Linked DNA regions of Homo sapiens. The protein of the gene in region 2 purifies or fractionates together with the protein of the main gene of each other region. This does not show direct contact. Each region holds a gene or a part of one and is shown on either strand. Other genes may lie near its edges.

What was found.
Region 1: the proteins of CAMK4 (region 2) and ANKRD28 purify together in Homo sapiens (affinity purification with mass spectrometry; 2 studies listed by BioGRID and IntAct, with this or other methods). This does not show direct contact.
Region 3: the proteins of CAMK4 (region 2) and PPP6R2 purify together in Homo sapiens (affinity purification with mass spectrometry; 2 studies listed by BioGRID and IntAct, with this or other methods). This does not show direct contact.

What each region holds. Positions count from the first base shown.
Region 1 is NC_000003.12:15,672,317-15,676,063, reverse strand, and holds part of ANKRD28 (serine/threonine-protein phosphatase 6 regulatory ankyrin repeat subunit A), read left to right. Parts: intron 1-74; coding exon 75-166; intron 167-2,873; coding exon of another isoform or gene 2,874-2,983; exon of another isoform or gene 2,984-3,747. UniProt on the Homo sapiens protein: Regulatory subunit of protein phosphatase 6 (PP6) that may be involved in the recognition of phosphoprotein substrates. Involved in the PP6-mediated dephosphorylation of NFKBIE opposing its degradation in response to TNF-alpha.
Region 2 is NC_000005.10:111,222,802-111,226,548, forward strand, and holds the start of CAMK4 (calcium/calmodulin-dependent protein kinase type IV), read left to right. Parts: upstream 1-1,582; 5' UTR 1,583-1,682; coding exon 1,683-1,843; intron 1,844-3,747. UniProt on the Homo sapiens protein: Calcium/calmodulin-dependent protein kinase that operates in the calcium-triggered CaMKK-CaMK4 signaling cascade and regulates, mainly by phosphorylation, the activity of several transcription activators, such as CREB1, MEF2D, JUN and RORA, which play pivotal roles in immune response, inflammation, and memory consolidation.
Region 3 is NC_000022.11:50,430,235-50,433,981, forward strand, and holds part of PPP6R2 (serine/threonine-protein phosphatase 6 regulatory subunit 2), read left to right. Parts: intron 1-938; coding exon 939-1,148; intron 1,149-2,030; coding exon 2,031-2,095; intron 2,096-3,747. UniProt on the Homo sapiens protein: Regulatory subunit of protein phosphatase 6 (PP6). May function as a scaffolding PP6 subunit. Involved in the PP6-mediated dephosphorylation of NFKBIE opposing its degradation in response to TNF-alpha.

The DNA.
Region 1 (3,747 bases), on a different chromosome or scaffold from region 2:
TTGACAGCCAGGTGTGTATGTGTATGTGCATGCACATGCACATATGTGTACATGTATCATGTTTTTTCCCCTAGACCTCTGCATGTTGCTGCCCGAAATGGGCTAACAATGGTGGTTCAGGAACTTTTGGGAAAAGGAGCAAGTGTGCTTGCAGTAGATGAAAATGGTAAGTTGGTTCTATATTCTCTTCCCTTAACCTAGAGCTTTTATCTTTTGATCCATATTTGAAGAGAAATAAACTTGGATATTTTTTATTGGTCAAAGAGGAGAGCTAAAGTTAATATTGAAGAGTAGTTTGTGGCAAAGGAATAAGGGCAAAAGAAATAGGAAAAGTTATCTAACAGATGTACTTCCGAATTCCTATATCATCTGTTACAGCAAAGTTAGTATTTACTGTTTATACTTGCCACTTTCTGTTGTTTTAGTAGCCAAAGATTTTGTTCTTTCAGCAAATATGTATCAAGATCCTAGTTAAGTACTAATATTCTTATTTAAAGCCAGTGTTTCTACTCATGCACTAGATCCTGTCCCCTTTTGCCTACTTCATAATGTCAGTTTGACAGTTCTCTTTTGTGTCCTGGAGTAACATTTTTCGCTCTCTTCCTGTATTATTCCTCTCAGTATATAAACATTAGTTCCCTCATCCTTAAAAAATAATTTATAAATCTCACTGCTCCTGCCAGCTACTGCCATATTTCTCTGTCCCCTTTTGCAGCAAAACTACTCTCTTGCTGTCCGCAGTTATTCCTCTCATTCTTCCATTCTTTTGTTGTTGTTGTTGTTGTTTGTTTTTGAGACGGAGTCTAGCTCTGTTGCCCAGGCTGGAGTGCAGTGCCATGATCTCGGCTTACTGCAACCTCCGCCTCCTGGGTTCAAGCGATTCTCATGCCTCAGCCTGCCCAGGTAGCTGGGATTACTGACACCTGCCACGACGCCTGGCTAAATTTTGTATTTTTAGTAGAGACGGAGTTTCACCATATTGGCCAGGCTGGTCTCAAACCCCTGACCTCAGGTGATCTGCCTGCCTTGGCCTCCCAAATTGCTGGGATTACAGGTGTGAGCCACAGCGTCCAGCCTCATTCTTCCATTCTCTCTTAATTTCCGTATAGTCAGGCCTTCTCCCCCTCACCCCTACACATAGCAAAACTGTTCCCATCAAAACCACCAATGACTTCTACTGTGTTAACTACTACTTAGCTCTCATTTTACTTGATAGATCAGCTTTTGGCACAACTGATCGTTTCCTTTGATAAATTTTTTTACTCTGCTTTTTGAACCCCACTCTTCCTTGGTTTTCCTTCTACATTACTAGTTATTCCTTCTTAATTTCTTTTACAAAATTTCTCCCTCTTCTTCTAGGACTCAATTCTTCGTTCTTTTTGCTTTCTCTATCTACATTGACTCCCTAGTGCTCTCATCAGTTCCTTTGGTTTTAAATACTACCTATAATGCTGAGGATTCCCAGATTTATATCTCCAGCCCAGACTTCTCACAGTCTCTATATATCCACGTGCCTAATTGACACATCCATGTGGATGTCTGATAAACAGCTTAAACCTAGAATGTGCAGAACTGAACTGTTGATCCTTTCCCACTCCCCTTGCCAGACCTACTCTCCCCACAGCATCATGCTCTCTCCATTGAAGACAATTCTCATTCTTAACAGTGGCTCAGGGCAAAACCCCTAGAGTCATCCTTGATTCCTCTCACTCATACTCAATGTATAGTCCATCAGCATATACTATTGACTCCACCTCTAAAGTAGATCTAAAGTATGCCCACTTTTTTCTTTACTGCTACCAGACTGACCTGGATCCTTTTAAAGTATATGAGAACATGTTACTCTTGAATTTCGGTTCTTCTTCTTTTTTTTTTTTTTTTTTTTTTTTGAAGAGGCAGGGTCTCACTCTGTTGCCCAGACTAGAGTACAGTGGTGAGATCATAGCTGATTGTAACCTTGAACTCCTGGGCTCAAGAGAACCTCTCACCTCAGCCTCCCAAGTAGCTAGCACTATAAGTATGCATCACCAGGCCTAGCTAATTTATTTTTTGTGCTGACAGACTCTCACTATATTGTCCAGGCCGGTCTTGAACTCCTGGCCTCAAGCAATCCCCCCACCTCAGCCTCCCAGAGTGCTCCACCTGGCCCCACTCATAGTTCTTAAAATGACCTTACTAGGCCCTACATGATGTGTCCTCCACCTTGTTACCTTTCTGATATTATTTCCTACTCTTCTCCTTTCTCTACTTCATTCTGCCATGCCAGCCCCTCCATAGCAGGGTTATACATGCATTGTGATCTTCATTCTGGCTGTTTACTCTGCCTGAACACTCTGTCCCCAAACATCCCATGACTAAATTCGTCACCTGTTTCAAATCTTAGCTCCAGTTTCATCTTCTCAATGAAGCATATTCTAACTATTCTTTACTACAACTTGCTAGATACCCCTACCATAGCATTCTCAGTCCTTGTTAACCTGCTCCACTCTTTCCTCTTTTTTTACATAAAGCTTTTAACATATTGTATATAATGTACTTTTTTGTTATGTTGATTTTGTGTCTTCTCCACTAAAGTGAATGTAAGCTCCACAAGAACAGTGAAATCTTTGTCAGTTGCATTCACTGATATATTCTTAGTGTTCTAAATAGTGCCTGAGCAAGTGGAGGCTCAGTGAATATTTGCTGCATGAGTGATTATGCCAAGCACTGTACTAACTTCTGATGATATAGTGTAAAATAAGACATAGTCTACTCCCTTGAATGGAGATAAGAGTGCAAACAGCCTATTAACGATGCACTTAAAATAGTTTAATTGGAATAAGCATAGAATGCTATGAGAGTACTTAAGAGGGTCTTCAAATCCTTTCTTGCAGGATCAGAGAAGGCATCCCAAAAAATGCAACTGCTAAGCCAAAATCCAAAGGATAAGGAGAAAGTGGGGGAGGAACTTTCTAAGCAAAGAGAGTGGCATGTTAAGAGATAAAACTGGCCGGGCATGGTGGCCCATGCCTATGGTCCTAGCACTTTGGGAGGCACAAGGCGAGTGGATCACCTGAGGTCAGGAGTTCGAGACCAGCCCCGCCAACATGGCAAAACCCCGTCTCTACTAAAAATACAAAAATTAGCCAGGTGTGGTGGCATGTGCCTGTAATCCTAGCTACTTGGGAGGCTGAGGCAAGAGAATCGCTTGAACCCAGGAGGCAGAAGTTGCAGTGAGCCGAGATCATGCCAGTGCACTCTAGCCTGGGTGACAGAGCCAGACTTCGTCTCAAAAAATAACCCCCATGCAGAGGAGAGGAGCCTGTTTTTAGTCATATTCTGACTAGAAAACACACCTGAAACAAGCTTCTTTCCCCACTCCCGCTCTCATCCAAGGCATCCTGGCCTATGTAATGGGTTGTTCTGCCTGCCAGCAGCAGGAACAGCAGCAGGCACCTTTAGAAGAACCCTTGAAAGAAGTGTGGGCAGTGAAGCACTCCCCCAGCTACTTTGAACAAATAAAATTTAATTAAAAATACGGACAGCCTTCAGCCACTGCTGCCAAACTTGGAAGGACATCAGTTGTTCTCTTTGACCCTTGACAAAATGGGAACTTTACAAAGGGGGAAAAATTACTTTTTGTGGCTGGGCACAGTGGCTTACTCCTATAATCCCAGCACTTTGGGAGGCAGAGGCGGGAAGATCACTTAAAGCCAGCAGTTTGAGACCAGCCTGGGGAACAAAGCGAGACCCTGTATCTACAAAAAA
Region 2 (3,747 bases):
GTATAGTAAAATGCTGTACAGGTTTGAAGCCTAGGAGCAATTGACTATTCCATCCAGCATAGCTGTGTAGTAAGCTATACTATCTGGTTGTGTACAAGTACACCCTATGATGTTCTTACAACTGCATCGCCTAAGGATGCATCTCTTCAACTTCTCACCGTGGTTGAGGGATGCATGACTATATATATTTTCAATTTCCAATCAGCTAGGAATCACATTCCTGTAACTACTTGATTGGATATTTTTGGTTGTTTGTTCACCAGTATAGCAGGCAGGCTTTTAAGAATAATAAATCCATAAATTAGATTAAAATATTGGACCATATTAATGGTTGGTGCTATCAGGAATGGAGACTTACTAGGAAGAGTTTAGCGCATGTTGGAGGAAACTCAGGAAAAAAAAAAGGCCAAAAGTAACACCTGTGAAGTAAGGTGAAAGCGCCTGGAGCTATTTAGCCAGAAATGAGTTGTGGTATAATAACTGTCATAGATATGTATCAGAACATGACTAATTGTTGTTCGTCTTTGCTGAAATCTGAAAAGAAAAAAGTTCAAGGGTAGTTTAAGTGATGTATGTTTAATACTGAGAAGAAGAGCCATGACAGCTGATGGACAGGACATAAGAATGCTTATCATGGGATACATCTCTTGGGAAGAGAAAAAGGGCTTTTACATGTAGCAGTCTTCCCTGTCATGAATGAGGACAGGTCCTGCCTTAAGGCAGAGGGTTTACTAGTTGGCTTCCACAAGGCCCTTCTAGAACTGTAATTCTGAGCCACTTCAGATGCTGAGATTGAACTCGACACAGCCAAGTATCTCCTCTTTTAGGAGCTCCAGCAGTGCCGAGGAGGCAGTGCCACCAGCAGCGACGACAGCATTTATTCCAACTGAAGACTTCACTCAAAGGTGAGTCAGGTCAGTGTGGACCTGGGCGCTTCCTTTTCCTCCAGCTCTCACTGGGTCCAGGCACAGGAGCCCTGAGGGATCGGCGACCACAGTACTCCCTCCCCGGCCACCAATATAAGCTTTGACAGAGGATGGCTGGTTAGCTGGTGTTAGGTGGGAGGGACTCGCCACGGAGACGCGCTCAAGGAGGGATGAGTTGCGCCACCACCACCTAGGTCCCTCTCTCGCTATCCGGCGGGGCCGCCCGGACCCAGGTGCTGCCAGGGTACGCCTGGCGCCCGCCATCCCAGAGCAGCGTCCCGCTGCGCACGGTCTCCCTCCAGCTCCGGTCCCCGCGGGAGGGCGCGTGGGATGATGCGCGGGTCCTTGTGCCTTCCCCAAGCTCCAGCATCCGGAGCCGCCCTAGCCGGCACCGCGGCAGCCACAGCCTGGGAGAGAGAAAGGAAAGAGGGAGGGCGGCGGGAAAGGCTCGGCGCGGGAGGAGGGCGGGTGAGGAGGGAAGGAGCGAGGGGGAGGGAGCCTCTCTCCTCAGCGGTGCAGCTAGTCTCCCTCCAGCGGGCGGCGACTCCGGGTTCCCCCTCGCGCCCTCTCGCAGAGGCTCGCCCCCTTCCCCGCCCACCGTCCCTGCGAGCGCGGGCGGCGGCGGTGGGCGTGTGCGCGCGTGAAGGACGCCGCCTCTCTCTCGCTCCTGCGTTCGCAGGCGGCGGCTGGCGGCCGGCTTCTCGCTCGGGCAGCGGCGGCGGCGGCGGCGGCGGCTTCCGGAGTCCCGCTGCGAAGATGCTCAAAGTCACGGTGCCCTCCTGCTCCGCCTCGTCCTGCTCTTCGGTCACCGCCAGTGCGGCCCCGGGGACCGCGAGCCTCGTCCCGGATTACTGGATCGACGGCTCCAACAGGGATGCGCTGAGCGATTTCTTCGAGGTGGAGTCGGAGCTGGGACGGTAAGGCGCGGGCTCCGGCTGGGGAAGCCCGCGGCGTGCACTGGGGGTTGTCCCTCTCGCAGCGACGGCTCGGAGGGTGCGGGAGCCTGCCTTCGTGCCCTTCGATTTCTCCCTACCTAGTTAGTGTCTTGAGAGAGAGCTAACCTTCATTCAGGTGCGGCTCGAGTCCTTCCCACCCCACCAGAGCGCCTAGGCCGGTGCAGCTGTAGGATCAGCCCGACTCCCTCCCACCTTCCCTCCTTCTCGCAGGCTGCCACTTCCCTTGGGTGACAGCTCCCACCGCACGTGGGCCCTGCTTTCCCAATTGATATCTTTGCTCACGATTATAGCTTGCCAGAGGGTCCTGTTTGTCTAGTTATTGTTTAGGGTGGGGGCCGGAGGGTGCCCCTCCAAATCAAGACAGAATTATTAAGTTAGATTCCTCCTCCTTCCCCTCGTCAAGCTCTCCAAAGCAAGTGACACGAGAAATTAAACTTAAATACTAGCTTCCCTGCAGAGTCTGCTCAGGAGTGAAGGGAGAAATGAATCATTTAAGAGAGTTGAAGGCAGAATAATGAACTAGTGTGGCTTTAAAGAGAAAGCAGCATATGGGATCCAGGCAGTGGTAATTAGTGAGAATGCTGCTGCTTCCCTTCTTTCATGGGCTGGAGTGATTTATTTAAATTATATATGCAACAGACCATCTCCCTAGGATTGCAGATATGTCCCCTATCCCTCCTCTGAAGATCCAAACAGGTAGCAGTTTGGCCTTCTGCATGATTCCATATGCTTTCGTATTTGTATCCATTGAAAATTATAGTTTTCTTTCCCTTACTTCCTTTTTTTTTGTCTTTTCTCTCTGTTATCCATAGGTAAGGAGATTTATTTTCAACACTTATTTTAGATCCAGGCTCTTTAGTATAGGGAATCTGAAGATGTAATTTCAACGGTTGACAAGTTGCAGCTTCTGTACTTACTACTCCTTTGCAATTTCATTTTTCATTCTCTTTTTGCTGGAAATAGTATTGCTAACAGCCTTTTTATTTTTTCAAGTCATTGGAGGATCCAGAGCAGGATTCTGGATGTTGGTATTTAGTGGGAAGATGTAATGATCACTGCCCACTCTCCCCCCACTTTGCTAGTACTATTGAAGGCTCATTGAATATAGATGTGTAAAATAGGCAAACTTCTGAATGAAAATTCAGTGATTTGTCACTGTTAAAAATGTTTTGAAGTATTTGAGCACTGAATAATGTATACATAAACATCCATTTTTGATCAAGTTTTTCAGTATTCATCTGAAGATCTATTATATATATAGGTGGAAATGAAAGGACAATGATGTCGATTTTTGTAAGGTCCAAAACATGCCTGTTATTAATTGTATGATGCGTGACAGTGGAACCATGTAAACCTCTGAGTAAAGGGATGATCTACTTAAAATTGTTTACTGGGTGTTTTATAAACTACTGTGTAGTAGAGGAAGTGCCTGATGCTGCTGCAGGGACTGTCCCAGTAGCACATCTGTTTTCAGAGTAACATTAACCCTAGATGCCTCAAATAGGCTGACTTATCCACACACGTTGTCTTTATGAATAAGCTTCATCGTCATGAAACTCAAGAAATTCACTTTAATTTGAAAAATGGGAAAAAAATAAACTGCCAATTGTATACCCCTATGAGATGGTAGCCTGCATAGGAAAAAACTGAGAAATTTGAAGTTTGGGTTTTTTATTTTTCAGTTCAGAATTACGTGTTGCAGTAAATTTTGGAGGACAAATATTAATCGGTTATACAGAAGCTTCTCAACTTATGATGGTGTTATGTCCCAATAAGCCCACTGTAGTTGAAAATATCAGAAGTTGAAAATGCATTTACTACACCTGTGCTAACAAACGTTGTAGCTTAGCCTAGCCTACCTGAAA
Region 3 (3,747 bases), on a different chromosome or scaffold from region 2:
GAACCACCTCTGGGCTTCAGCCCATGCTGGTTAAGTCTGGGCTCCCTTGGGGAGTGTCTGAATGTGCCCCTCACAGTCTCACGTTTGTGTGGTGGACGATATGCACACGCCTGCCCATCCTGGGTGGAATCCTCATGTGCTTGAGAGTCTAACACACTTCCAATAATTCATGAGAAAGACAGAATCATAAAGGAACTTCTCACATACTTAGAACTGAAGAATCATAAAAATACTACTTAGCAAAATGTGTAGAATGTAGTTAAAGTTGATTGTATACAGGGAAATGTAGCCTTTAAAGACAGACTGGAAAGAAAGGCTGCAATTAATGAGTTGAGCTTCCAACTGAAGGACAAAAGAAGCCAGGCCTGGTGACTTATGCCTGTCATCCCAGCACTTTGGGAGGCGGAGGCGGGCAGATCACCTGAGGTTGGAAGTTCAAGACCAGCCTGACCAACATGGCAAAATCCCGTCTCTACTAAAAATACAAAAATTAGCTGGGCATGGTGGTGGGCACCTGTAATCCCAGCTACCAGGGAGGCTGAGGCAGGAGAATCACTTGAACCCAGGAGGCAGGGGTTGCAGTGAGCCGAGATCGTGCCACTGCACTCTAGCCTGGGAGACAAAGCAAGACTCCGTCTCAAAAAAAAAAAAAAAAAAGAATAAACCCGCAGAAAGTAGAAAGGTGATGATTCAGATTGAAGCAGAGACCAACAGACACCCACAGGCAGGAGGCAGAAGTGCTCAGTGGCTATTTGAAGAAGCTCCGTAATAGAGAGATGACCCTCAGGAAAACGCTTAAAACTCCTTCCTAGCTACCCAGAGACTGGACTTGTGAGGAGTTAGGACGCCACCTTTAGGAAGGGTTTCCCTCAGCTTTGTGGTGTAGCCGGCAGGAGAAAACCGATCTAAGAACTGTCTTCTGTCCTCTGTTTACCCAGGACTTGTTCTTTAAGTACACCTGGAATAACTTTTTGCACTTCCAAGTGGAACTATGCATAGCCGCTATTCTCTCCCACGCTGCCCGTGAGGAGAGGACAGAAGCCAGCGGATCCGAGAGCAGGGTGGAGCCTCCGCATGAGAACGGGAACCGGAGCCTGGAGACTCCCCAGCCGGCCGCCAGCCTCCCTGACAACACAATGGTGACCCACGTGAGTCCAAGAAGCATCCATCTTATCAGCGCCAACTGCGCCCCACTCAGACCGTGTCCATGTCAGCGCTGACGTGTGCCGGACCTCACTGTGCAGCTGACACGGGGGCAGGGCTTTGAAAAGGGTCCCCAGGTGTCTGGTCAGACGCTCGTAGACAGTGGGGCTTGAGTGGGTCTTGCAGATCTCATTCCTACCTGCCTTCAGCAGGGGTACTGGTGCCTTCCACGTGCAGGCCTGGCAAGGGTTAGCACTGGATGAGATGAGTTCAGTCTGGCCTCCAGCTGGAGGCCCAGGGAATAAATGCCCAGGGAGCCAGCAGTGTCAGTGATGGGAGCCACACGGTGGGGAGGGGATGCTGAGGGACATGCAGGCCAACCAGGGACTGTCACCCGGATAGCAAGGCCACAGGTATATCGTAGTGTGAGGTGGAGCCCAGGAAAAACATCTCAGGTACAAGAAGTGATCTGTGTCAGGGCCTGGAGGTGAGAGAAAGTGCTGAGGGCAGACAGCCCTAGTCGTTCTTCCGGACACAGAGAAAGAGGGCAGGAGAGTGGCCAAAGTGGAGGGCAATGGAGAGACGGGGAGAAGGCCCAGGGGAAGACAGGGGTCAGGGGGCAATTCCAGGAGTTGGAGGAGAAGGGAGAGGGTCCTTTTCTCGGGCTTCATCTTTAGGGCGCTCAGCAGTATGAGCCCCGAACCGCACCCTCCTCTGGTGTTTGGTGAGGACCGCGGAGGCTGGGGCTGTGCGTGCGCAGCAGTCAGGGCCTGCAAAGTCCACACAGACGTGGCCGCCAGCCAGCCCTGCCCAGTCCAGGGATGGGTGGAGGGGTGCGTGCCGCCTTCAGACCCTGACTCACGCTGTCCCCCTGCCCCGCCCCCCAGCTGTTCCAGAAGTGCTGCCTGGTGCAGAGGATCCTGGAGGCCTGGGAAGCCAACGACCACACGCAGTAAGAGCCGCTCGGACGTGGAGGGACCCAGCCTGGCCAGTCAGGGATGCAGAGACGCACCTCACCCAAGCCCTGGTGACGCTGCGTGCAGGACTGCAGGATCGGGTGGAGTGTAGGGTGTGCGACGTGGCTCCACGTTCTGGGGCTGCTGTGCAAGGGGCCCTTCTACTGGGCGGACAGCTGCAAATGCTACTTGGGGAGGGGACACAGGGAGCCGACAGGAAGCGGTCCCGTCCCCACCAGGCACCTGCTCTGGCCCCCGCCCAGCCTGGCTTTGCCCTCTTGTGGGTCCGCTGTCCGTTCCTGATCTTCCCCAGGAACTCGGGCCCTCCGTCAGCACTCGCACACAGGGACGCGTTATTTTGGTCTTTCCATCTTCTGCTTAATGGGTGCTCCCTCTGGTCAGGACACATGTCCCGCTTATTGTCGTGGGCCCAGAGCCATCCCCACCCGTTTGCTGTCCTGCTGGGAACTGTCTGGCTCTGGGCGATATGAGGAGGGACTCCAGGGAGCTGGGAGGGGTCTGAGTGCAGCTGTGGGGAAGCAGAGGCCGAGCTGGGCTGTACAGCATGGAGGTCCCGCCCAACCCTCCCCTTGGGGTGCTGAGCCTGAGCTTGGTAGCTGGCAGCATGGGCTCACCTCCTGCGCCACTGCTGCCACCAGCGGGACTTAGGCCACGCCACGGCCTTTCTGCCTCCATTTCCCTGTCTGTAAAATGGAGTGAGAGCAGTGTCTGTTTCCTCATCTGTCTCAGTGGCACTTTTGGTAGTGAGGTTGGGGTGAGCCTGCTGCACGTGGCAGGTGCTACTCAAACAGAAGTGTCCTGGAGGAGGGCAGGGGGCGCGGACACTGGGCAGGGGCCGGGCATTTGCTCTGGAGGTGAACCTGGAGGAGGGCAGGGGGCGCGGACGCTGGGCAGGGGCCGGGCATTTGCTCTGGAGGTGAACCTGGAGGAGGGCCGGGGGCATGGATGCTGGGCAGGGGCCGGGCACTTGCCCTGGAGGTGAACCTGGAGGAGGGCTGGGGGCGCGGACGCTGGGCAGGGGCCGGGCATTTGCTCTGGAGGTGAACCTGGAGGAGGGCTGGGGGCATGGATGCTGGGCAGGGGCCGGGCACTTGCCCTGGAGGTGAACCTGGAGGAGGGCTGGGGGTGCGGACGCTGGGCAGGGGCCGGGCATTTGCTCTGGAGGTGAACCTGGAGGAGGGCTGGGGGCGCGGACGCTGGGCAGGGGCCGGGCATTTGCTCTGGAGGTGAACCTGGAGGAGGGCCGGGGGCATGGATGCTGGGCAGGGGCCGGGCATTTGCTCTGGAGGTGAACCTGGAGGAGGGCCGGGGGCATGGATGCTGGGCAGGGGCCGGGCATTTGCTCTGGAGGTGAACCTGGAGGAGGGCCGGGGGCGCGGACGCTGGGCAGGGGCCAGGCATTTGCCCTGGAGGTGAACCTGGAGGAGGGCCGGGGGCATGGATGCTGGGCAGGGGCCGGGCATTTGCCCTGGAGGTGAACCTGGAGGAGGGCCGGGGGCATGGATGCTGGGCAGGGGCCGGGCATTTGCTCTGGAGGTGAACCTGGAGGAGGGCCGGGGGCGCAGACGCTGGGCAGGGGCCGGGCATTTGCTCTGGAGGTGAACCTGGAGGAGGGCCGGGGGCATGG